Homo sapiens: one gene and its partners. The protein of the gene in region 5 purifies or fractionates together with the protein of the main gene of each other region. This does not show direct contact. Each region holds a gene or a part of one and is shown on either strand. Other genes may lie near its edges.

Region 1 (3,129 bases), on a different chromosome or scaffold from region 5:
GGGCCTCAGATGGGCTTCAGGGTAAACCTTTGTGGGCCCTTTTCTAAGAAAAGGATCCACAGCTTTCATTAGAGTCTCAAAGGGCTACTTCTCTGAATGGTAAGAACCAGGTATAAGGTTTAATCTTGTTGTCAGATGAGGACAATGAGGCCCCAAAGGAGAGACCTGGCTCCCACTCCCCAACCCCAGCCATGTGGCCAGTTCTAGAGAGACCCCGAGCTTCATGACTCCTATTACAGTGCTCTTACTACTGCCTTCTTTCTTAGGATCCGGGTGGCCTCACCTCGTCAAGGTAGGGGCATTCAGCGTGGGCTCTGTGGAGGGCATGTGTCACTCACAAGCTTGGCCTGGGATTCCCTTGCATTAAGCCAATTCCTCTGAGGCCCCAGGCCTGAAGCTCCTGCAGGCTGCCACCAGGGGACAGTGGTGCCCAGGCTGGTGGCATATTTGGGAATTCTGGACTTAGGCCAGCCTCCCTCCTCCCCTGCACAAGGGCCAGATTCTGAAATGATCTGTCTTTATTATGTCATCAGAAAACAAAAAAATCCCCCGAGTGTAAACAGGAGAAATGTGCTGGTTAAGTTACTCATCATTATCTTATTATTAACAAAATAAAGCACTATCTATGTTTACAGTCATAAAAAAAGAAACAGCCTGGAGAGAAGTGGGGGCTTTGAGGATGGAGAGAAGACGGGGGCAGACACAGACTCCACATCTGGCCCTGTGGGATTTGGGGTTCCCATACTGATCCAAGGGCTATTTAGATCTTCAGAGTTAGGTGACAATGGGATTTGATTTCCTTAGGGAACAAACTTTGTGAAACTGATCAGAGGCTGAGATCCAGTCCCTAGTATAGAGTGGGGGAGGGGAGGGCAGGCAGGTGAGGGGCAGGGCTGGGTGGGAGAGGCTGAAGCCCAGGAGTCTTCTCAACCTCTTCCAAGAATGGGGACCCCCCCGACCCTGTGCTCATGAGGGAGGAATAAAGACCAGCTGCCATGGACAGCCCCTCTCCAGGGCCTCTGACGCTGGCAGGAAGGGGAGCACCATCAATCCTCCTGTCCCAACTCCCTCGTGGGATCAGGTTGGGACCAGGGGCGGGGGCACCAGGACAAAGCCCCTTGGAGGCCGAGGCACATTCCCATGCTGATCAGAGCTAAAAATGGCTCCGTGGGAACCGACTGGCAGAGCCAGGGAGGGAGTGAAGGGGAGGGCAGGAGGAGGTCAGGAAGGCTGATGAGCCCAGGGCAGACCAGGGGCCTACATAGACCCAGAGAATCCAGAGGGCACAGGGGGCAAAGGACAGACACCAAGAAAGAGAGAAATAGAGGGCCTTGCAGAGAGACGAGGACAGAGAGAGACAGAAATGCACACAAGGACACACAGAACCTGAGACACCCAGACTGACAAAGAGGTAGCAATTTGGGGACAAAGAGAAGCACAGAAAGAGGCCCCCAGAGAAGCAGGAGTGGCATCGAGAGACACACCCACAGGAACTCAGCAACAGTGCCTGGCACGTAGTGGGCACTCAATAAATATCTTGTGCAGTGAATGAACAGATGAAACACACACACGTGCACGCGCACACATACAGCAGCCAGAGGCACAATAGGCTTGGCAGAGATGAAAACAGCAAGGGACAGCCAGACCCTTTTGCACAAAGTACAAAGCGATCCTGGTGATAGACGAGCAGTCTGGGGGAGTGTGGGAGGGGTGTTGGTCCCACAGTGGCTGGTCCAGCCAGGACAAGAATGGAAACAAAGCATGTGACCCCAGGGAGACAGGTCGGTAGATGCCATACCCCAGGTGGATAGACACCTGCAGGAGAGGAGAGTCATACAGTGTCCCCTGGCCATAAGCCCTAAAGGCTGAGGTGCTCAGCCTGCTCAGCCCATGGCCATACTGCAGTTCCTGCCCACCCAGGCCAACAGCTCCTCAGGAAGGGAGGGCGCCTCTCCCCTCATGAATGTATCTGCAAGTGCACAGCTTTGCCCATCTCTGGGGCACGAACAAGTCCAAGTACCAACATAGTCTTAGGTTGGCTGGCTGTGCCCATCGAGTTGGGACAAGGTCTTCCCCAGAGGAGAAGGGGCCAGGCCCACCCAGCCGGGATCAGTCTGTGAGCACCACCAACTCCCCATCGCTCTTCTCTTCGCCCTCCGAGTCCTCGTCCTCGCTGTACCGGTACATCTCGCCATCAGCCACCGAGTGCCTGTCATCTGTGCCCTCACCCTCCTCTCTGAGGCTGCAGGTGTTGACGATCACAGGCATGTTGGGGTCCAGGCTACGAGGGACATAGTGCTCCACCAGTGGCTGTGCCAGCGGCATGCCTGCTGCCCGAGGGTACAGGACATCTGAGGAGCTCATCTGCACCTGGCCAGCCTGCGGGCTGTGGGGCAGAGAAGGGGAACGGTGATGGATGCACACTTGATTCAACCCCAAACCCATCTCCCCTCCAGGCCTCCTCAGAGCATGCACTCCCACTCCACACACTCTTGGCTGTGACTTATATACCCTGCCCCCAGCCTGCTTTCTGATGGCCAAATTCACTGGCACCTACGACCCTGCAGATGACCTGCAGACCTAGGGCCATAGATGTGTTCAACAGATAATATTCTTGGAGGATCATGTGTGAATCCAGTTTTTAGAACTTGTATATTTTATGTTTTGTTTACTTATATTTAGAGACAGGGTCATGCTCTGTCACCCATGCTGGAGAACAGTGGTACAATCACAGCTGACTGCAGCGTCAGCCTCCCAGGCTCAAGTGATCCTCCTGAGCCTGCCTCAGCCTCCTGAGTAGCTGGGACTACAGGTGTGAACCACCACACCTGGCTAATTTTATTTAAAGATGAGGTTTCACTATGTTGCCCAGGCTGGTCTCAAACTCCTGAGCTCAAGGGATCCTCCTGCCTCAGCCTCCCAAAGTGTTGGCATTACAGGCGTGTGTCACTATACCAGGCAGAAATTGTATATTTTAAATGCCCTGGGAGATGTCCTGTTTAAAGGAATAGACTAGGGTGCTTGCTTTAGTCAAGTCAGGAACCTTTCTGTGTGATGAATACTTTGATTTCTAGCACCTCTGAATTTCTATTGAGTTTATCGGCCGTGGGATCTACAGGCACTTTCTCC
Region 2 (3,706 bases), on a different chromosome or scaffold from region 5:
GCTTGTCTTGCTAGGAGAGGAGGATGGGGGGCTGAGCACTCAGGCTGTCCATTGAAACCCCTTGTCCATGAATAGGGTCATACTCCTAAGACTGATGGGGTGTTGATCTTCTAGGACATCACTTGTTTATTCAGTGCCCCAAACACAGATTTCTCTTCTAGCACTTTAGAGTTGATCCTTGAAGTCTCTCCTGGTTCATTCAAATACAAGCTGTGTGAGTCTGGTGGTTTTCTGTGATTGGTCTAATGTGAGCTCTTTGAACAGACAGATCTGACAGTGAATGACTCTCCCCTGCTTCTGGCATAACTGCTTTGCCTCTGTCTAGTGTCCAAGCATCTTAGCTGTTCAAGAGGAGAGGGCAGCATAACTTCCTGACCACCGGTGTCAGATATCAGAGCATTCTGGACTCCTGAGAGGCAGTGGCCTCTTGAGTGAACAGGGGAGGCCAGTAGATGCCCCAGATCCAGAGCCGTGGCTGCAAATCCAGCAGGAATAAGGAGGGACAACCACAGCCTCCTCATCCATGTGTCATTTCCAAGGGTTTGCCTTGTGTCTCAGCTCATTCTGGGCAGCACGTTTGTCTTCTGTCCCTAGAGATTTGAAGGATTTTGGACTCTTGTGAATGGGTGACTGGACTTGGCTTTACAGAGTTGGGTGCTTTTTTCTCTCTGCAATTACCTGTCATAGCATTTTGTGCTCACCACGAAGGATGGTCTCTGCCTTCTCTTGTCGGTGTATGCCATCTGAACCTAGGAACACAAAGTATATTGGCCTCAAACGGAGACCCAGGGTTGCCAGTTTTCCGTGGGCCTTCCCCTCCCTTGAAATGTCTTTAATTACCTCCCCTTCATCGTCAGGCCACGTGTGACTTCTGTTCTTAGCACTGCCAGGGTCATTGACTTCCATCTAAGCTTGCATCAGGAAGATGTTCCTTCTGTGATCATTGGTACTGAAGCCAGAAAAGCTCTCATTCAGGAACTCTGAAGAGCAAAAAGGGACAAACACTAACTGCTGAGCTGGGCCATTTGATCTCCTTTCACCTTGCATTGCTGTCACAGCACCTTGTATGATGGCAGGACAGGCTCCAGCAGAGAGAACTGCACAGTGACCACTGTATTTTTCACGCTCTTCCAGGGATCCCTGTCCCCCGACATTGAAGAGATCTCATTCAGGCCAGAGACACAGAGACCACATAGCCCAGTGATTAAACCCCGGTTTCACTCTGGCCCCAGGAGTGGAGCCTGGCCACTCCTGTTTGGTTCTCACTGGGAGGCCCACTGGCCTTGGATCATCTCCTCATGCACACCCGGAGTTTTACCTGCTTGCTTGCTTTCCTGGACTGCTGTTTGCAAGAAAGTAACTAAAACATGAAAAGTAAACCTCCAGCTTCCACAGTATATTACCTGCCGTTGCATGCATTTGAAAGTTAGCCTCCTCCCTTGCCACCGTCTTGGTGGCAGTAGCGATGCAAGAATGATGGGAGCTTTCCGAGAGCGTTCAGTGTTTCACTGAAGACAGGACCCATAGCCTTCATTTCTGGCTCTGTGTCTCCTCTGGCATATGGACACATTTCCTGGCATTTGCCTGAGTCTACACCACTTTTTGAGAACCTGAAATAGAAGGGAATCTTCTGTGGCCCACAGTCTCCATATTGGCACTAGAAGACTGGCCTGGCGGAGGAATTTGCGTTGGCTTGCTTTCAGGGGTTAGCTACAAGATTCAGCTTTATATCTCTGTTGCTTCTTGGCCAGTGTAGTCAATAAGGGTCTTCTTTAACATCTAAGATAGAGGTTTGGTTGGCCGGGCGTGGTCGCTTACTCCTGTAATCCCAGCACTTTGGGAGGCCCAGTGAGGTGGGAGAATTGCTTGAACCCAGGAGGCAGAGGTTGCAGTGAGCTGAGATTGCACCACTGCACTCCAGCCTGGGTAACAGAGTGAGACTCTTGTCTCAAAAAAAAAAAAAAAAAAATCTAAGATAGAGGTTTGGTCAACAGTGCTTAATAATAAATAAGAACCTCCTGCCATTCTAATTTTCCTGCTGCACCCCATCCCCCACACACCCCTCACGAACATTGATATAAGCAGTATTAACACAGTATAAAGAATGTTCACCTTGCATATGTCATTTCAGGCACATGGATTCAGGAGAAGCACAGTTGAGTGGAAGAAATGGTAGACTTGTGAGGCTTGCCCCAGGCCTTGTGTACACGCAATAAGTGGTGAGCCATGGGTCTCTCCGTCAGCGCCTCCCTCCCCGCCACCACTTCAGGCCAACAATTTAAGGTGCTGAGTTGTAAGGCTCCTCCATTGTCAGTACAGGGCTCGCCTTTGTAGCCCTGATCACTACCAGTACACTTTTCAAGACAACTGAGTATTTTTGTATGCCTTTGCCTTCCCTTTGTCCATGAAACATGAAGAGTTGTTTATGGTTCTTGACTTCTCTGAGCAGAGTGTCTGCATCTCTTGGAGAGTTACACATTTCTTCATGAGCCATTTTTCTCATTCTTAGATGCACCTGTTTTTATCCTTTGCAGACCATCTTCTGCCTTCTTATTTTCCTGTCTGTCAAAGACAGAAATTACAGGAGATAGGGAGGGTTTTTTAGCATCTCTTTCAAAAGATGTATGTCAGAATTTCCTTTGCACACCAAGAACTGGAGCTTAGAGCCCCACTATTCTCTAAGCCAGGTTCTAGTGCCTTACACTCCAGAATGTCAGATGGTGGGTGCAGATTGGAAGAAAGAGAAAAGTTCATCTCGGTGTGTGGGTTCCCATCCGCCCCACATAGCCTCTCCTTCTTCGGAACAATGGGCGTGGGGTAGAAAGCTCTTTCAGTGAAGGGTGTTCTAGCAGCTCAGTTAACACTTTACTCTCCAGTCAACACTTGGGACATATAAAAATGCCATTGTAACTACTGTAGAGTCCTGTGACTCATCGTTTGTGTTTGTCAATTTGCAGTTCAGCTTAGCCCTTCCCTGTTCCTGTGTAGTTACAATCTGGCCCTGAAGACATCCGAGGCACTTCAGTAAGTGGGATCTTTTCTAGAGATCCTGGGTGACTTTGGGTGCACAGGGTGACCGAGCATTTCTGCCCCTGTGAATGTGGCACTAACACTGTGCACTGTCTCCACCAAGCAAGGTTTCCACTGAGTTTCTTCTCATGTTACTGGGTTTGTAAATGAATAAACACATTTTAACTACTCTTGCACGGCTGCTTGTGAAATGTTCTTCATCTGTAGTGACTTAAATGTGTTTGCCACCACAAAGCATAAACAGCGTGCAGAGGAGAGTGTGTACCTCCCTGTGTGTACCAGTGTGAGGGAGGATTTGGGGACGGGGGTAGAGAAGATGTAGGTGTTTATCTTACCCTCCCTGCAGCGCTGGAGTGGCTGGGGGTAAAAGCTTCCCGCCTCCTGAAATTCCGACCGGCCTTCTGCCTACAGCTGACCTCAGGAGGAACCTGCCACCTGATGTTCCACACGGGCACGTGTGCACTCAGGTTTGTGTGGAAAGCAAGGGGGGTCGTGTTCTCACCCTGTGGAAACAACCCTGAGAGAAACAACCAGTGCTCTTTTTCTACACCAGCTTCCATCCACAAGTTGGTCCCTGGACTTGACCTGTTCACTAATTTTTTTTTTTGAGGCAGAGTCTTGCTCTTTTGCCCAGGCTGGAGTACAGTGGTGTGATCTTGGCTTACTGCAACCTCCA
Region 3 (3,500 bases), on a different chromosome or scaffold from region 5:
GCTGTTGTACAAGATGAGTTCTAGTAACTCAACTGAGTGTAACTTTTCAAAGTTGCTGAAATAAAAATGTGTATTTATTTTCATAAAACTACATGTAGTCTATGCACACTGCAAAAGCCAGAGTTTCTATAATGTTTTGTTGGGATATTAAAAATCTTTTCCCACCCTTTTTGAATCTAACCATTTGGTAATGGGGCAACAGCACAACACAGAGAACGCTGAGAGGACCAAAATGTTTGCAAACAAACTTTCATTATTCTAGTTCAATCTTTCACAAACATACTGTACAGAGTCTTATATGGTATAAAACAAAGGAAAACATCTGTCTGTTCAATTTAACACAACACCAAAATAAAGCAATTAAGACTTTGGGGAATTCAAAGTACAAGAAAACAAAAACGATTATTACTAATTCCTCAGCTTTTTACCATAAACACTTGTCATTTAACATAGTGTTTGATATAGTTTCTTTTGTACTGCAAATACTTTTGGTCTTTCCTCCCCGTAGAACAAATGAAGAATTAAAATGGACCCCATAGCATCCTCTGAAGGAGGTGAAAAGATAAAGCTCCTAGACATAGCTAGCTTATCTTTAAGAATCTATTGTTTCTGAAATTTTCACAACAAAAATACTGAATCCCCAACTAATGATGCTTATTTTGGGAAACAATAAATACTGTGAGGTACAATAAATCCTACAGGAATAATAACAACAGAAACATATTAACAGTTTCCTTTGGCAAATTTAACGGAAGTGAATGCTGATGTGAACATAGAAAAAATAATTACAAAAACATGAAAAATGGAAACGACATAAAAGTTAAAATAAAGGGATATTTCTAACTTTTAGACTGATGAAAGAAATGTCTGAGGCCATTAAATGCAAAAAAGAAATACATTCTCTTTAAATTATTGTGTACTGTTTGACAAAATATTCCTTGTTTATCTCTTCTTTTCCCCTCCACTTAAAAAAAAAGGAAAAAAGAAAAAAAAAAGACAACAAAACAGTCTGCAATGCACACCCTAATGGTTTTGGCTGCAGACTGAACTTGAGTAAATATCATCATTTAGTCAGTATGTTGTGGTAGCTGAGGCTGCCGATGTGGTTAACCAGCTCAGGCAACATGTGTAAACATCGGAAACAAAACAAAACAAAAAAGGTTTGGAGAATAGTCTCTCTCCTCTTTCTCACTCTCAATTGCTTGGTTTCAGGCTTGCTTTCATTTCTCTCTGACAAATCGTGTGGGGAAACACAAAACACTGAACATTGAGAGATCCTGCTTTAAAACCCCCTTCTTCTGGCTTTTCAGAAAGGAGTGTTGCTCCATTCAAGTTTAGCACATGTTTTCAAAGCTTCCAAGTACTGCTGCTGTTAAATGCCTTTTGATTTTGTCTACCAAACAGGCCTGAATTATAGTACGACTGCAGAATTTGCAACAAATTAGACAGCCATACAACAGACCGACCCAGTTCAGAGGATTTCTTTTTAAAGGATAAGGGTTAGGGCCTTGGAAATGAGTGTTCGACTCTTTTACTGTATTCATCTTTGTTCCGTAGCGGGTAATTTGGGCTTTTGTATCCTGAAATATTATCCTGCCTCTGAAGAATAAATGCCTTGGCTGTTTCACACCACATAATTTTGTTTTCCTTTTATGTAACTTAACGTATAAGCAAGAAGGATGCAATGTTGATTCTAATAACATTCGGCACTTGAAAGAATCACCAAGTGTTTTTTTAAAAAGCGGTTTTCTGGTGGCCAACAAATTGGCCTGTGGTTATGTTGAGTGACTAATTGTATTTTCTTTTCTGGAAACTTGTGCAAAGTTGGCAGTTTTGTGTTAACACTAATACTTTGTTTGGCATTTGTGCCCTATACTGACCAGACCATTTTTATACAAGTGAATTTTTTTTAAAAAAGACACTTACTGAAGTATGGCAATAGTTTAAGGATAAAAAAGAAGCATGGTTATTACACATCCCCTTGTAGTGTATGAAAAAAAGTGCATGACGGGATTTATGTACTAGTACAGGACATTTTAAAAAATCAGATCTGTGCTGTAAAGCATGCCAGCACCTCTTTAGCACTATATCTAACAGGTAGTAAAAACAAGACCATGTTTTTTTCTTTTTTTAAAAATGTGCATTAATGCTAACATAAATGAATAGAGCTAGCCAGCAAACTATCTTTTCCTGCATATCTAACAGCTGGATGTAACTGTAAAAATTAAACAAAAAAGTTAAACAACCATCAATACAATTGTTTTACATCAATGGCCCCTCAAGGCTAAATATTTACAGGTGAATCTGCCATGCTTTAATTGAAGATTCTTTCAAAACCTTAAAGTTCACAAAAGACAACTATAAGAAGTTCCTTTTTGTTTCTTTTTTCTTTTTTTTCCCTTTTATTTTTGCAGGCAACAGTCATGGGTACAACAAATTGTCTCTTTGGGGAAGACCAAGAATTATTCTGTCAAAACTGGGGCTAGTTGCACACTGTGTGTGTGTGTGTGTGTGTGTGTGTATGTGCATGTGTGTGTGTGTGTGTTTAAAGGGGTACTCTGTTTTCACCCTGAAATCAAAGATCCCACTCCTTTCCCAAAACTATAAAGGGAAGTGAAAAAAATTCAAAAGCACCTAGTGTTTATCTTGTTTATCTCAAGGAAATACGTGTGTGTATATGTAGCCACAGAGCATACATAAATGCACACACACACACACACACACACACACCCCAAGTACATAAGCGCACACTGACTATGGCAGTTCAAACACGTAGGCCATCTGGTGAGAGCTGGCATTTGTAGTGTCCATTCTGAGACTAATCTACTGAAGTGAAGGGAATGTTTTTGTGGAGATTAGGGTTCTGACTGTGCCGATTTCGGCTTCGTACAGAGGAAAACATCATATTGCAACCTGGGACTTTGCACTTGTGCATTTCTCTCAAATGCACAGTTTTGTAGTGCACTCTCAGGGTCCCCTTGTTGCTGTACATTTTGTGGCAAATGTTGCACATGATCCCACCATTGCTCCCAGACAAGCTGCTGAACATAAGAGATCCTGAAACTTCAGCCCCTAGGCTGCCAGGGAGGGCAGGGGCCTCGGCCTTGTGTGCCGACTCCCCACTGTCACTCGCCCCGTCAATGTCATCGAGAAGAATCCCCTCATCGCTGCCTGCGTCGGATTCTCTGGAGGAATGGATACTGCTGCTGGACTGGAGGCTGGAGGTGGTGCTCAAGTCAAGGACCATGTAGTCCTCTGCCATGCCTCTCCCATACCCGTTCAGGTGGGAGTCTTCAGTCCCTGCGGGAGAGGAGGCGTCTTCCCTGACATCGAGCCCCATGGGGTGCTGGGCACCATATATCTTCACCAAAAATTCATCGCGGAGGTCCTTGCTAAGGGAGGGCTGCGACGAGTCCAGGCCCATGTCATCGAGTTCTTTGGTCAACAGTTTACGATGTAGGTTTATGTTGGCACTGTGTCTAGGAAAACAAGAGGGAAGG
Region 4 (3,500 bases), on a different chromosome or scaffold from region 5:
CTCCTTCTCACATCCACCCATCACTGCTTCTACTCACAATTCATCCCACAGTCCACGTATTTAGTTTCTATCATTCAACAAATAATTGAGCACCTACTACATGAAAGAAACTAAAATTATACTCTAATGTACTGCACTAAACTACCCAAAAATATAATCCAATTTCAGCTGCTGCCATTTGAATATTTCTACAACTCTAAATTTCCAGTCAGCCAGGCATGGTGGCTCACACCTGTAATCCCAACACTTTGGGAAGCTGAGGGAGGGGATCACTGGAGCCCAAGAGTTTGAGATCAGCCCAGGCAACATGGTGAGACCACATCTCTACAAAAAAAATTGAAAATTAGCCAGGCGTGGTGGTACATGCCTGTGGTCCCAGGTACTCGGAAGGCTGAGGCAAGAGGATCACTTGAATCCACGAGGTAGAGGCTGCAGTGAGCTGCTGCGTTCACACAACTGCATTCCAGCCTGGGCAACAGATCAAGAGCCTCACGTTCGTTCATTCAATAATAAATAAATAAATAGCATATTTCTAGTCATCTTCCCCTCTTCCCTACCTCCAACTGCATTCCACTTCCATATTCTAATCCTACTGCTATCAAACTAATTCAAGCCCTTCTTAATATCTCCAGTAGCCACCTAACTGGTCTTTTTGTTTTCTAACTGGTCTTTTCACATACAATCTTACTCTACCACCACATTACCCGCAATCTACCCAGTAAGGTATAGCTATTGCCAGCTATCTAATATACGGTCCTTGGCTCAATTCTCTACTCAGAAAAGTTCAACAGCTATACACTAATGATTTCTGCTAACATACTTTAATCATATGTTAACATACTTTAATTCTCACATCCTCACCATAACCCTTGCCAGGAAAGTATGATTATCAATTTTATGAGAAAATGGAAACTCAGAAAGGAAATAATTCTCCATAATCATACAGTGGGTAAACAGAAGAGCCAAGACTAAAACCCAGCTTCTGTTTGCTTACCAAGCACAACACTACATCATATCAAATACAAACTACTTAGCTTAGCTTTCAAGGCCATCCATTTTCAACCCAACCCCAACTGACTCTCCTACCTTGTATTATACCTTATTCATGAACTCTCTGCGTTCCAAACTATAGATTGTGATTAATTATTTTGTCGGTCATGAAATCAGTTTAATGAGTGACAATCAGCTTTTTTTTCTTCCCCCTTGGCCAGCTTTTTTTCTTTTTAGTCAAACAAAATAGATAACATCCAACTGCACCTGCCACTGTTAAGGACAGTTACTGTATTATGAAACTTCTTGTTTTACCCACACACAAACATTCATACATGCATATATTAGATAGAAGTGTGACATGTATTTCTTACTATAGGTCATAGTTTAAAAATTAAAACCTAACTCACCATTCCCCACATCTCCTGGGCTTCTCACCTCCAAGCCTTTGCTTACGCTAATCTCTCAGGCAGGAATGCTCTCTTTCAGTAATCTTTGCCAATCAAAATCCTATCAATCCAAAACTTAAAAAAAAAAATCTTATCAATCCCTTCAAAGACTAGCTAAAATTCCACTTTTATGCCTTTAAAGTTCTGTCTCAGGTTTTCTCCTAATCAAATGCATTTTCTGCCTTTTAAATTCAGTAATATTTGGTATATTTGTGACTCACAGATATATTTGTGATTATAGTACAGGTATTTGTGCACAAGTCCAGCTGCCCTACCACAATATAAATCCCAAAGGTTTTATTCCTGACAGCAAAGCATTATATGCTTTTGCATATAACAAATGTGCATTATCTGTTAAATAAAGCTCATCCCATCATTTTCTGAAACCTTGTTATAAATCAACATAATTTAATAACTTCTACTATATTCCAAACTTCTGTTGACTCTTATCCTTCAAATAGCCTTACCATCTTCCTCCTCAAAACAGCCGTCTCAAATAATCCTCTTTACCCTCCATCTTCTCATGCTTTCCTCCAAAGATAGCCTGTCATATTTCAGTAATCTTTTCCCTCCTTCAGAATCATGCTTTCTATCAGATACCACCTTTCCTTCCCCATCTGCTTATCTTCTACCTTATTCCTAGTTCTCTAACACCGATACACATTGATCTATATTCTTTAAACAGATTTTTCTTTTCTTCATCATCTCTTTAACCAGATTTATTGAATTATTTCAATTCATTGCTAGTGCATATAGTTTGGCAGCCCTGTTAAGTCCTTTGTAGAAAAAGGCAGGTTATGAATAAATGAAAAAGAAACATAAAACATATAGACAATTCAGATCTCCTAAATTATCTCAAATATCTCATTCATTCATTCATTCATTCATTCAACAAGCTCGTGTCTACTGGACACATGCCCTCAGTTCTGTCTATTCTATTCCGTAATTCAGAAAGCAGCTTTGAGAAAAGCATGCAGGAAAATGCCAGGATAACAGGGCCAAGTTGACTCATGCTCTTCTCTCATGAAGGCCAAGTAATTTGTGGGGTACAGGCTCATAAAAGAACAACTAAAAGTTACACTATACGAAGACGGAAAACAGACCCCATAGTTGTTTCAGGGGGCTCAACATCTACCAACAAATGTGAATCTGAAAGGAACAAACCAGTAGGAGTAGCTAAAATGAAACAGGCAGAAAGCATTCAGACAAAAATAGATCCAGACTCTAGGTTCACTTTAGGGCTGCAAGAGGAATTTGGAGTCATTTAGTTCCTCTCTGAGATCCCTAAGGAATCTTTTCAAATATAAGTATGGTTCACTTAAATCATTTCACCAAACCTTAGCCAATGTTCATTTCTCCATTCCCTGAACTCCTACAGCACTTACTGTCTGTAAAACTCATTTGTGAACTTAAACTATCTTGCTCAAGGTAATAAAATTATTAACAAACATACTCAGAATTTATTTCATCTGAGAAAAATGAGTTTTTAAAAAATTTATTTACACATTCAAATCAGTATGGTCCTCTTTAAAATAAGTTACTTTGGAAGGCTACCACTTACTCATTTATTCACTCCATCCATCCAACCATCTGATGCACTCAACCAACATTTATGTAGTGCCTAACTAACTACATGTGAAGCTATCACCCCTGTTCAAAATATTTCCAACTTCCTCCTTGGGAGTGTTTTCAAAATCAGCTAATAAGTCAACCAAGAAAATTATTCCCGTTTCTGTGATTAACTGGATTTAAGGCAAAACTATTTTTCATTCACTCTATTTGATATTGACTAACCTTCAGCATTTCTAAAAATCAAAATTTCAAAGTAAAAAGATCTGTCATCAATAAGACCATTCAGAATAAGATTATACCATGTATTATTTAAAAGTGTGCCTCTTGGCCGGGTGTGATGACTCATGCCTGAAATCACAGCACTTTGGGAGGCCAAGGTGAGTGGATCACTTGAGGCCAGGAGTTCGACACCAGCCTGGCCAACACGGCGAAACCCCATCTCTACTAAAAAATACAAAAAATTGCCAGAAGTGGTGGTGCACGCCTGTA
Region 5 (3,500 bases):
GCTGGGCATGGTGGCAGGCACCTATAATTCCAGCTACTTGGGAGGCTGAGGCAGGAGAATCACTTGAACCCAGGAGGCAGAGGTTGCAGTGAGCCAAGATCTTGCCATTACACTCCAGCCTGGGTGACAGAGCGAGACTCCGTCTTAAAAAAAAAAAAAAAAAAGAGAAGAGAGGAGGAGGAAAAATAAGAAAGGGGGAAAATGGGGAGGAGAAGGTGGGAAGGTGGGGAGGTGGGGAGAGGGGATAAGAACAGGCAGGTGGGACAAGGGAGGGCTGAGAGGGCTGAGGGAAGGAAGAGAGAAGCCACTTGTCCTGGGGAGAGGCGTGGTGGGGGTGGGATGGGGAACCCCACCCAGGGTGGGGGATGACGCCTCCTCCCTGGTGGTTGAGGGGTGCTGGGGTGGGTGGGGGTCCGTGCTGTGTGCTCACCTGTACTGGGGCGGGGAGAGGCGAGGAGGGCTGCTGCTGCCGTTGCTGGGCAGCGGCTCCACGGGGGCACCCACGTCATCGTGGCTGAGGGGCAGCAGGCTGCTGGCGGAGCCAGGGTTCAGCATGCCAGGGCTGTTGAGGAGGGGGAAGCTGCTCTCGGCCAGGGCGGCCTGCAGGGGCACAGGGTTGGGCCTCGTCAGTGGCTCCACAGGATGGGGCACACTCAGTCAAGTGCTGTGCCTTCCCCGCCCACTAGAGAGCTGCCTGTGTGTCTGCCTACTGGCCCCACGGGCGGATCTGTCTGGGCAACCCCCAAGCCCCAACTCAGCCTTTGAATGTAGCACCCCTCCCCCATGGCTGGAACTCTGACCCCCCGACCTCCTACCTCCTAGCTTTCCTGGAACCTGGGCCTGGCTTATCCCCTCTCCCAGGGAACAGAGAACCCCCAGACTGACAAACCAGGAAAGGGGATGCTATAGGTATGCCATCCTCCCAGCTGCCTGCCTTGTCTGAACCCAGCCTTGAAAGCAGAGGTGGAGGCTGGCCCCGAGTTGGGGTGGGGCAGAGAGGTGGGGTCTCGGAGAGTTTGGGTCTTCACCCTCCTTCCCTCCTCTGGTGAGTCCTCTGCAGGGGAGGATGGGGGTCTCTTGTATGAGAAAGCAAGGGGGCGGGAGGTAGAGGTGAGTGGGTGGGCTCTGGGCAGGTCACCTGGTAGCTGGCATTAAGTGCTCCATAGCTGAGGCCAGAGATCATGTTCTTCACCAGGGTGGGGCTCCTGGAGGACAGAGAAGGCCATCTTTGGCTCACTCATTCACTTAGCTCTTCATTCGCATCTCTTTACTCTCACTAAGTAACGGCCTGTGCTGGGAATGGGTCCCATTCCCTATTCCGGGAGGCCAGGGCGGATCAGCCGCTGTCTTGGAGCTGTGTGTGTACTTGGTCTGATTCGGTCTTCACGCTCAACTGGCCCTGCAGGAGCAGCCCCTTCACAGGTGGGTGCGATGGGCTTGGTTCAGGGACCTGTCCAGGTCTCGGAGCTGGGAAGTGGGAACTGGCATCCCCCCAGTGTCTGCCTTCACAGCATGCTGCCCCCCCACCCGTTTTCTCTCCGGTCTAGATTTTCCAATGTTTGGCAAGGTCTAATCTATAGTCTCAGTAGTTACACACCTGGTCTGCCCACACTGTCTTGCCATCCTAGATTTTGGGACATGTCAGACATATGCTCAGCCTGTCCCACATGGAGGCTTCTGTATGGAAGCCTCCATACAGAAGGCTTCTCTGCACGGGAAGGTGTTCGGGAGTTGGGACAGGAAAAGCAGTGGCTGGGGGCTGTCCCTCTTCCAGTGATGACACCATCACAGAGCTCTCACAGAGCTTAAGGAAACAGCCAAAGGTCACCAAACTGGTGAGAAGCAGAGGTGCAAGCGCAGCCAGGCCTGGAGACTGGCCCCTAGGCATTCACCAGGGGATGGCTTCCCTCCATTCTCCAGGCTGCACACTGCCTGGGGTGCAAAGGCTCCTGCCTGGTAAGCAGGCATCTTTGAGGGGAGCAGACACCCCACACCTCAGAGACATCCATCTAACTTGCTCTCCTCTCCTTACCCAGGGGCTCTGGCCCAAGGGGCACAGCAAGCAGGTGGCTGGGGTGGGGCTGTTTGAGGTCGGGAGAAGGCCACTGCTGCTACGTGGAAGCCAAAGGGAGGTCCTGACCCTGTCCCAGGCTCCTCAGTTTCTGTTTAAACTGCCAGGTGGAGGCTAGGTGCGGTAGCTCACGCCTGTAATCCCAGCATTTTGGGAGGCCGATGCGGGCAGATCACCTGAGGTCAGGAGTTCGAGATCAGCCTGGTCAACAGGGTGAAACCCCGTCTCTACCAAAAGTAAAATAATTAGCTGGGTGTGGTGGTGGGCGCCTGTAATTTCAGCTTCTCGGGAGGCTAAGGCAGGAGAATCGCTTGAACCCACAAGGTGGAGGTTGCAGTGAGCCAAAATCGTGCCACTGCACTCCAGCCTGGGCAACAGAGCAAGACTCTGTCTCAAAAAAATAATAGGCCAGGTGCGCTGGTGCACGCCTATAATCCTAGCACTTTGGGAGGCCAAGGCAGGTGGATCACCTGAAGTTGGGAATTCGAGACCAGCCTGACCAACGTGGTGAAACCACATTTCTACTAAATACAAAAAAAATTAGCCGGGCGTGGTCGTGGGCACCTGTAATTCTAGCTACCCGAAAGGCTGGGGCAGGAGAATTGCTTGAACCCGGGAAGTGGAGGTTCCAGTGAGCTGAGATCGTGCCATTGCACTCTAGCCTGGGCAACAAGAACAAAACTCCTTCTCAAAAAAAATAAATGAATAAAATAATAAAATTAAAAAAATAATAAATAAATAAGTAAATAAATAAAATGCCAGGTGGTGAAGTGAAGCTGAGCACAAAAGACCAGGAGGGCAGAGACCTGGTCCTGGAACCAGCTCTGCCACAAATCTGCTCTGGGGCCTCCTGCCAGCCCCTGGCCCTCACTGGCTCTCCTCTGCCGTAAGATGAATTGGTGGGGTCGCGGGACCTCAGAGGTCTAGTCATCCTGATGAGCTGAGAGAGCGGGTGCCCTGGGGGTGGCAGCCCCTCACCCATGGCCCGTTGGCTGGCATCTGCCTGTGTGCCAGCTCTGGCCAGGGCTACTTGGGGCCCCTGTCTCTCTTTGCTACCAGGCCTCCTTCTTGGCCCCTTCCCTCAGTCAGAGTGAGGACAGAAGAGGACATAAATGTCTGCCTTCTGATTATCCATCACTTCCGGATTCCAGCCCCCTGTCCCCAAGCACTAGTCTCCTCTGCTCCTTTCTCCCCACACCCCTTCCCCCAGCCAGGAAGGATCTGGTGCACATGTGTACCCTGGAGAGGTAGGGGGTGGGGGTGAGTTGGCTCCTGCCCCCTGGGCAGGTACAGCCCATCCAGCTCTGGACCCACATACCCTGTCATCTTTGGCGGTCTCCGCTTCTGATACTCCCGCTCGTCCACAGTCCACACGGCACCCTTGACGTTCTCCACGCGGACGAAGCACTTGTGCAGGCTGAGGTTGTGG
Region 6 (3,500 bases), on a different chromosome or scaffold from region 5:
AAACCCAGGAAGGACAACACAGCAAAGGAACAGGCAAGCAAATATTCTAAAGAGCTGAAGGTGTAAAAGGAAGATGTGCCATTGATTTTCCTTCACACCAGGTAAATGCCTTAACTATAGCCTTGTAACTCTAAAAGAAAATAAAACAATCCTTATGGGTCGACGTGGTAATGTATCCAGAATCTTTGTAATTGGCTATTCTGACGGTGCCTGCAGGTGATTACGCAGTGCTGTAAGCGTGGGTGTCTGGGAACTTCTGCACGAAAAGGACAACATCAAGGACTCCCCCGACTCGGTCGCATCAGCACCACGGTCAGGGACCCAGGGGCTCCTTTGCTGGTGCCCACATCAATGAGCTTTCATTCGTCTTTTTAAAAACTTGTTTCTTTAATAAATAAATAAAGGTCTTCATCATAATTCTACTTGTGTCAGTATTTGGAAAGGAATAGGTACCCGGTGTGTGAGCCACTGGGCGTGAATGGGATGCTGCTTGTTCAACTCACCTTGATGATTTTCTTCAGGACAGGTGGAGTGTGCATTACCAGAGACTTTCTTTTGGTTGGGGCTTCTCCCCTTTTGAGAGGCGTATTAGGAGGCAAGTTTTCATCAAATAGTTCAGGTCTTAGGTGCCCACCAAAGGACACACGCCTTCTTTTCAAAGGTATTCCCTCACTCTCATCTAAAGTAACGGATACAAATGTGGAAAGAGCAATGAAAAAACATACCAAGACTAGTGATTTATTTCACGTTAGCATTAAAGACAAACCAAGTGAAAAGTCATCGAAACACAGTACCTACAGCACGCCTCTATTCTTGCAATCCTGGTGAAGCTAAGCTACTAAGAGTTCCTAAAGGATTGCGGGAGTGGCCACTAAGACGTCAAGTTGCCACTGGACAGTACAGAGGCTTTCTTTAAAACATTGAAACATTATGTGTGGACATAGAAAGGAGGAGTCTGCAGCAGCAGATTTCACCTTAGAGTAGGGGGACGACAGCCAGAGAACTCTCTAAAGACATGCACTTGGGTCTCAGCCTGAGCCACCCAGTGACCAGAATGCATGAGCTGTAAAAACTCCTCCAGGTGGTTCTGAGTCAATTCACAGGAGCCCAGTCCCGGCCACACATTTTCCTGAGCCACCAGTTAATGTAAATCCCTTGCCTAAGTGATGCTTCCCCACTAGGAAGCTTGGTGGAATACTGAGACTGATGTTACAAACCTTATTTTATCGACAGCCTCATGCCCCACCGCTATAGGCCACCTGCAGAAACACAGCCTGGAGTACGAATACTGCGTCTGTGGCCCAGACAACTTTTCTTCTAATAGCCAGTCCCTAGGAGTGTAGGAAGCTCCCGAGGAGCTACCACACCTGCTATAAAGGTCCTACCTCTGCCACTTCCTGACTGGCCTTGGGTTGTGCGTTTCCTCATGTGTGACATAGCTCTAAAAAGACAACCTAGCCACGGGCACTGCTATTGCACCAAGGATCAAGTGTTCATGTGGCATATGGACTCATGGGTACAGTCCAGTGTTTACAGCAAATTGTTTGTAGGACACTCTGAAAACAGAGTATCAACACCTGAGAACTACCGCTATGTTTAATGATTACCAGTGATTTATTCCACATGACCAAACTCATATGATACAGTTGATTGTAGTTCAGAATTAAACTCCATGTGAAAAGCAATTATGATTATTCTCTTTTCTATTTTGTGATAGATGGAGGAGAATCAAATATTTTTGGGGCCACCCTATCTCCTTCAATAACCCCTGCTTCATGATTGCCTGACAACTTCCATCTCTTCTGTCATTCCTTGTTACAATTACCTAGGCCTTCAGTATTCATCTATTAGCGAAAACAGCGTGCGTGTCTGTCTTATCCCTGTGCCTTATGTGCTTACATTCTCTTCCACAAAGCTAATCACTACTGAAAGAATGAAGGTCTCACAGCTACATAGAAGGTGTTCATCTTTTAGAAAAATAAATTTACAATTAAATAAACTTACTAATGGAATCACCAAAGTTGTTGATATCAACTGAACTAAGACCAGGTAACCCAGAGCACATCTGTCCAGCTGTAGTGCCCAATTTCTCAGGCTTGCTGAGGGAATCCTTTTGGATCTTCCTCTCAACTTGAGTGAGCCACAGAGTTAAAAATGGCTCATTGTGAATTTCAGTTTCCGTAGGCAGAACTTCCACATCTGTAGGAATACTTCCTCTGGTTTTGGAAGAGAGATTTTCTGGCTTAGTGGCAGAGTCAGCTGCATCTTCAACTTTAGCTGGTGTTCGATTTCTAGTTGAAAGCTTCCTGGGAGTAAGAGTTTTATCACCAGCCTTGAAGCCTTCACTTTTACCCAGATTCACAGATTCTCTTCTACCAGTAGTATACAGGTCTTTGTTCTTATGTTTTTGTGGAGAATTTTGTTGCTGTGAATATTGTACAGGGGTCTTCATTTTAGCCGGCTCATAGAGAGGAAAGCTGGCGCCCACAGCCTTGCTGGGAGTCTGAACAGACTCCACGTCTCTTCCCTTCCCCTTGTTCTGGTCAAGCTCTTGTTCAGGTGAAGCAGGCTCTGCCACAGCGTGGCCGCTCCCACCAGATTTTGGTCTTGACTTACGCGAGACCAACAGTTGGGTCTCCCCCTGTAAACCATCAGCACTTTCTTTCTCTGTTGCGTAATCAGTTTGTAATCCAGATTTTCTACAATACTGTAGGACATTTTCTTTTTGTGATTTTACATCCAACTCTTTCTTCACTGACTCATAAAGCTTCCAAAAGGGAGATTCATTTTTTTTGCTATTGTCAAGACATTGTGTAGTGGGAACAGACTTCAATTCTCCATAACGGCTCACTAATTTAACGCTGGAAATTTCTTTAAAATCCCCAGAAATGGGATCAGCTGCATTTCTGCCATTACGTCCAGCATGTTCTGAGGAATGAACATTAGTTGTTCCCTGAGCAACACTGTCTTTTGAGTCATCTGCGGTACTGTCTTCTTTGACATTCTTGATATGTACCTGAGGATTTCCTGAAACTTTTCCTTCAGTGATTTTTGAATAGGCCTTGGAATCTTGAGCTTTCTCATCTTGGCAATGAATTATGAAATAAGAAACAGAAGTTCAGCATTTTCTCAATGATTAACATTTGTGGAATTCAATATTTTAATTGTTTCAGGTTGTCTTATAAGCTAGCTTTTACTTGGCCTACAAATTATTTAATGCCTAAAACTTGCAAGTCTTATGATACTAGTATTATGATACAAATATATAAATCATATCAGCTCCAATAACCAGTATGAAATAGCACATGCTATCTAACTACTGAGAACTGAGTTGACAGCTGAACAGGCAATTTTCTCATATCTAGAGTCTCTCCTAAGCATAGCATACCATCAGTCACCAAGGGAAAGTTAGGCATCTGTCTGTCGTTGACATGTTAAATGACACCTCCTCCATTTCTGACAGGCTAGACATTTAGCACTTGCATTCTTGTTGCCCCTTC
Region 7 (3,933 bases), on a different chromosome or scaffold from region 5:
CAGGAAAGGCGTGACCCAGAGCCACACAGGACAGGACTTGTGGGCTGGCTGGAAGGAACTTGCAAGGTGGCCTGTCTTGTCCCCAACCCCCTTTCACAGAAGGGGAAATCAAGGCCCGAGAAGTCCCAGGACTGGGCAACACTGGCAGGATGGTGAGGCTGGCTGTTCCATACATCCAACAAACGCAGACTTCAGCATTGGGGCAGAAAGTGCCTCCCAGTCCCCACTCTCCTGCTGCCCGGCTGACATAGAGGGCAAAGAGAAGGGCACACTATGCCACAGGCTTCCCCTCGGCCAGGGTCAGCCTTTCTAGGAAGGCAGTGGGGCCCCGAGAAGGAAAACAGAGCACCCACCATGGGGAGCCACACGGCAGCAGCAGTGGTGGCCTGGGAGAGCCCTGCAGACTGCTTTTCCGAACTCATGAAACAGGACTCTGGTTCTGCCCAGAATGTCAGTTCCTCCCATCCTACTCGCCCCAGATCATCCTCCATGAATCAGCCCCAGCCCTGAACTGGGGAAGTGTGTGGAGTCCTCCTCCCTTGCAGAAAACCACCTGTTCCCTGTCCACGCATGGGAGCTCACATACAGAGACGCTGCAGCTGCACGGGGCTTGGGAAGGGAGGACATTTGCAGAGGAAGGCACAGGCCCAACTGGGATGCCATGATCGGCCAGCAGGTGCACTGTGGGCACCCTCCCAGCTGCAGCCAGGAAGCGCTGCCCACTCCATATCAGGCACTGGGGCCAGGCTGAGCAGTTGGAACCCCCAGCTCAGACAGAGATGGGAGGCCCACCCAGCCGGCCTGTCCACAGGGCCAGGAGGGGCATCCCATCTCCAGATCCTCCACCAGCATCCAGAACCGCCTGTCACCCTGGGTGCCCCTCCCCGCTGGCCCAAGAACCACCTGCCAGGCTGGCCCTTCAGCAACCTCCAGCGAGCCCCCCTTCTCTGTTTAGTCTGTGCATGGGGTGGCAGGGGGTGGGGGGGGCACGTGCCACCCCAGGCTCTCAACTTTCCCAACCCTCCACTGCTGATGCTCCCACTTTGCAAACAAGGAAGCTGGTTGGGGACCCTCTGTGTTTCAGGGAACCACAGGTGGGCTTTGGGGCTTCACCAGCCTCACCAAGAAAGCGCCTCCCTGGTGGGCAGGCGGGCTGGCCCCACAGCAACCTGTCTGCCCTCCAGACTCGGGGCCTTTCTTGTCTAATCTCATGGGATGGAGCTTCCCGAGTTCACCCTCCAAGGCCACGGGCCTCCTCTCCCACCTGGGCCCACAACCCACCAGGCCACCCAAAGTGCTGGAATTACAGGTGTGAGCCACCGCACCCGGCCTGCTTCAAGTCTTCTAGCTACCTTTGCACAGGTTATTGTGCAAAAAGACATCCTTGAACAACGCCCTCCCCTCTCGACAACACGGACCCCTGGCCCACAGGAAAGGCGTGACCCAGAGCCACACAGGACAGGACTTGTGGAGCCACACTGGCTCCAGGACACTGCCAGTAGCCGGCAACAAGCAGCAGCTCCCGCTCTTGCCACAGCTGTGAAAAGGGCGGGTGGGCAGCCACCACAGGCCTGGCTCAGCCAGGTCTGAAGGAGCCCCCTCTGCAGGCCGGGGTTCAGACAGTGACACCCACGAGCCACTCCTGCCTCCCTGGCTTGGTCCCACTCAAGGCCGGCTTCCTTCTCGCCTCTTCCTGGCTTCCAGATAGGGAAAAGGAGGGTCAGGTGCCTGAAGCTGGGTGGGGGTGTGTGTCCGCATTTTCTCAACCATTTTCTGAACTCTAAAAGACAGACCAGACCCCGCTGCACAGCCTTGGGGTGCTGGCTGGGCCCCTTCCCAACCCAGCACCTCACTTCTGGTCTCCTAAATCCTCTCCTCTCTCCTCCTGAGGGGTAGGGTAGGTGGCGTCCTGTGCCACAGGTGCCACACTGGACATGTCAGGCCAGAGACACTGGAGGCCGGCAGTGGGCAGGACCAGGCCTCCGGGAGGGAGCGTGCGAGGACACCACGCCCTCAGGCCGGACCCCCACCCAGCTCTGCCAAGTCCCAGTCCCCACCACCTGAGGCCTCCCCAGTACCCCTGCGAAAAGGGTGACAACTGGGCTTTGCTCAATGCCCCGGGCAGCCCATCTCCCCACCGCCCTCTTCCCCAGCTAGACCCACAAGGAAGGCGGCCGCGAGGGCCCCGAGGAGGAGGCGCGGTCCGGGAGTGAGTCCGCCCCCGCCCAGCCGGGAGGAGGTCCCGGAAGCCCGCAGCCTGGCGCCGGCCCTCGGGAGGCACCGGGTCCCCGGGTCGCTTCAGAACCAGGAAGGGCCAGGCTCTGGGGGTGGCGGGACCGGCGCCCTCCGCTCGCGTGGCCTCGGGGACTCCTCGGGAGGTCCTGCCCCGCGGCCCAGAGTCGGACACACCCCCGGGGCAGGGCGCGGGCGGCGCCAAGACCCAGGCGGAGGCCGAGAACGTGGCCGGCCGCACGTAGGCCGGAGACCGCGCCGGGGAAGAGCGGGGGACAGACCCGGGGCAGGAGGCCGGGGCGGGAGGCCGGGGCGGGAGGCCGGGCCGGCCCGAGACCCGGGTCCCGGGGCTCGGCGGGCGCTCCGGAGAGGCCAGGGCGGAGGCGCCCTCCACCCCCTGCGCCGCGACGCGGCCGGGACCCCCGCCCACCTTGCGCGTCGCCGCCGCTGGTCAGGACGCCGATGGCCTTGCCCGCGCCCGACGCCCGCAGCTTCTCCAGGTCCACCGCGGCCATGGCGGCGGCCGAAACACGGGCCCAGCTCGCACTCCCGCCGCCTGCGCCGCGTCGCCGTCCCCGCCCCGCCCCGCGCGCGCCTTCCGCCCGCCCCGCCCCGGGCCCGCCCCCGGCGCCTCCTCGCAGGACGGACCCTGGACGGAGCAGGGATCCTGCGCCCTCGGCCCGCCGGGGCCACCTTCCCGCTGTGCGTTTCTAAACCTGTGCAATGTCACGCGGGCCCTGAGCAGTGAGACCCCCCCCTCCACCCCGGTGGTCTCGAGGATGTGGCCGGGGACCAGGGCGGGGCTGGCCCCAGTGCGGCCGCACGCGCCCCTTCGCCAGCGCCGAGGCCCCGGTGGCACGTCTGGCCCGGCTTCGCTTCTCCGGAGGTTCCTTGCTGTCGGCCGCAGCCACCGCCCCTCCCTGCCCCCCAGGGGCCCTCAGGGCGCCTTCAGGCCTCAGCAGAGCGAAACCCAAACGAGGCGCTGGCGGAAAGCAGCCAGCACTCCTCCCTCCCTCTCCCTCCTTTCCTCCCCTCCTCCCTCACTTTTGCTGGGCCCTTGGGGAAGTCTTGGTTCCCCGGGCCCTGGGGGTGCAGAGCCGGTGTTCGGGAGAGCCGCCTCGTGACCGCACGGTGTGTTCGGTTTGTGAAAGCTCAGCGGGCTGATCGCTAGGATTTGAGCATTTTTCTCTACATATACGGTGGAAATGGTGGCTGTGAATATCAACTACTCCTTATTTAATTGTGAAATGTTAGAAAACACACCGAGAGACTGCGCAAGCACATATGCGTGGGCTAAAAGGCGCTAAGAAGACACCTGTGTCTACCCCTGAGGCATCCTTGTGCTGACATTTTGGGTCATTATTCTCTCCCTTTTCTTACAGCTTCATCACGTGTGTGTGTGTGTGTGTGTGTGTGTGTGTGTAAATTCTTAAACGTACATGGTTTAGCCACAATGAGGTACCACCTCATACCCATTAGGATGGCTACTATAAAAGAAAAACACAGGCTGGGCGCAGTGGCTCACGCCCATAATCCCAGAACTTTGGGAGGCCCGTGGGGTGGGGGGGGGGGGGGGGGGTGGATCACCTGAGGTCTGAGGTCAGGAGTTCGAGACCAGCCCAGCCAACATGGTGAAACCCCGTCTCTACTAAAAATACAAAAATTAGCCGGGCATGGTGGTGTGCGCCTGTAATCCCAGCT

What was found.
Region 1: the proteins of FOXP4 (region 5) and SOX13 purify together in Homo sapiens (affinity purification with mass spectrometry, with the first as the bait; one study listed by BioGRID). This does not show direct contact.
Region 2: the proteins of FOXP4 (region 5) and PDPR fractionate together in Homo sapiens (co-fractionation; one large-scale study listed by BioGRID). This does not show direct contact.
Region 3: the proteins of FOXP4 (region 5) and BNC2 purify together in Homo sapiens (affinity purification with mass spectrometry, with the first as the bait; one study listed by BioGRID). This does not show direct contact.
Region 4: the proteins of FOXP4 (region 5) and ZNF148 purify together in Homo sapiens (affinity purification with mass spectrometry, with the first as the bait; one study listed by BioGRID). This does not show direct contact.
Region 6: the proteins of FOXP4 (region 5) and MKI67 fractionate together in Homo sapiens (co-fractionation; one large-scale study listed by BioGRID). This does not show direct contact.
Region 7: the proteins of FOXP4 (region 5) and PFKL purify together in Homo sapiens (affinity purification with mass spectrometry; one large-scale study listed by BioGRID and IntAct). This does not show direct contact.

The regions. Positions count from the first base shown.
Region 1 is NC_000001.11:204,125,115-204,128,243, reverse strand, and holds the end of SOX13 (transcription factor SOX-13), read right to left. Parts: intron 2,387-3,129; coding exon 2,110-2,386; 3' UTR 501-2,109; downstream 1-500. UniProt on the Homo sapiens protein: Transcription factor that binds to DNA at the consensus sequence 5'-AACAAT-3'. Binds to the proximal promoter region of the myelin protein MPZ gene, and may thereby be involved in the differentiation of oligodendroglia in the developing spinal tube.
Region 2 is NC_000016.10:70,159,332-70,163,037, forward strand, and holds the end of PDPR (pyruvate dehydrogenase phosphatase regulatory subunit, mitochondrial isoform 1 precursor), read left to right. Parts: 3' UTR 1-3,206; downstream 3,207-3,706. UniProt on the Homo sapiens protein: Decreases the sensitivity of PDP1 to magnesium ions, and this inhibition is reversed by the polyamine spermine.
Region 3 is NC_000009.12:16,416,171-16,419,670, forward strand, and holds part of BNC2 (zinc finger protein basonuclin-2), read right to left. Parts: intron 3,480-3,500; coding exon 2,819-3,479; 3' UTR 1-2,818. UniProt on the Homo sapiens protein: Probable transcription factor specific for skin keratinocytes. May play a role in the differentiation of spermatozoa and oocytes. May also play an important role in early urinary-tract development.
Region 4 is NC_000003.12:125,365,326-125,368,825, forward strand, and holds part of ZNF148 (zinc finger protein 148), read right to left. Parts: intron 1-3,500. UniProt on the Homo sapiens protein: Involved in transcriptional regulation. Represses the transcription of a number of genes including gastrin, stromelysin and enolase. Binds to the G-rich box in the enhancer region of these genes.
Region 5 is NC_000006.12:41,594,881-41,598,380, reverse strand, and holds part of FOXP4 (forkhead box protein P4), read right to left. Parts: coding exon 3,390-3,500; intron 1,206-3,389; coding exon 1,139-1,205; intron 601-1,138; coding exon 431-600; intron 1-430. UniProt on the Homo sapiens protein: Transcriptional repressor that represses lung-specific expression.
Region 6 is NC_000010.11:128,112,924-128,116,423, forward strand, and holds part of MKI67 (proliferation marker protein Ki-67), read right to left. Parts: intron 3,085-3,500; coding exon 2,005-3,084; intron 680-2,004; coding exon 504-679; intron 1-503. UniProt on the Homo sapiens protein: Protein that associates with the surface of mitotic chromosomes and acts both as a chromosome repellent during early mitosis and chromosome attractant during late mitosis.
Region 7 is NC_000021.9:44,298,920-44,302,852, reverse strand, and holds the start of PFKL (ATP-dependent 6-phosphofructokinase, liver type), read right to left. Parts: upstream 2,801-3,933; 5' UTR 2,748-2,800; coding exon 2,663-2,747; intron 1-2,662. UniProt on the Homo sapiens protein: Catalyzes the phosphorylation of D-fructose 6-phosphate to fructose 1,6-bisphosphate by ATP, the first committing step of glycolysis.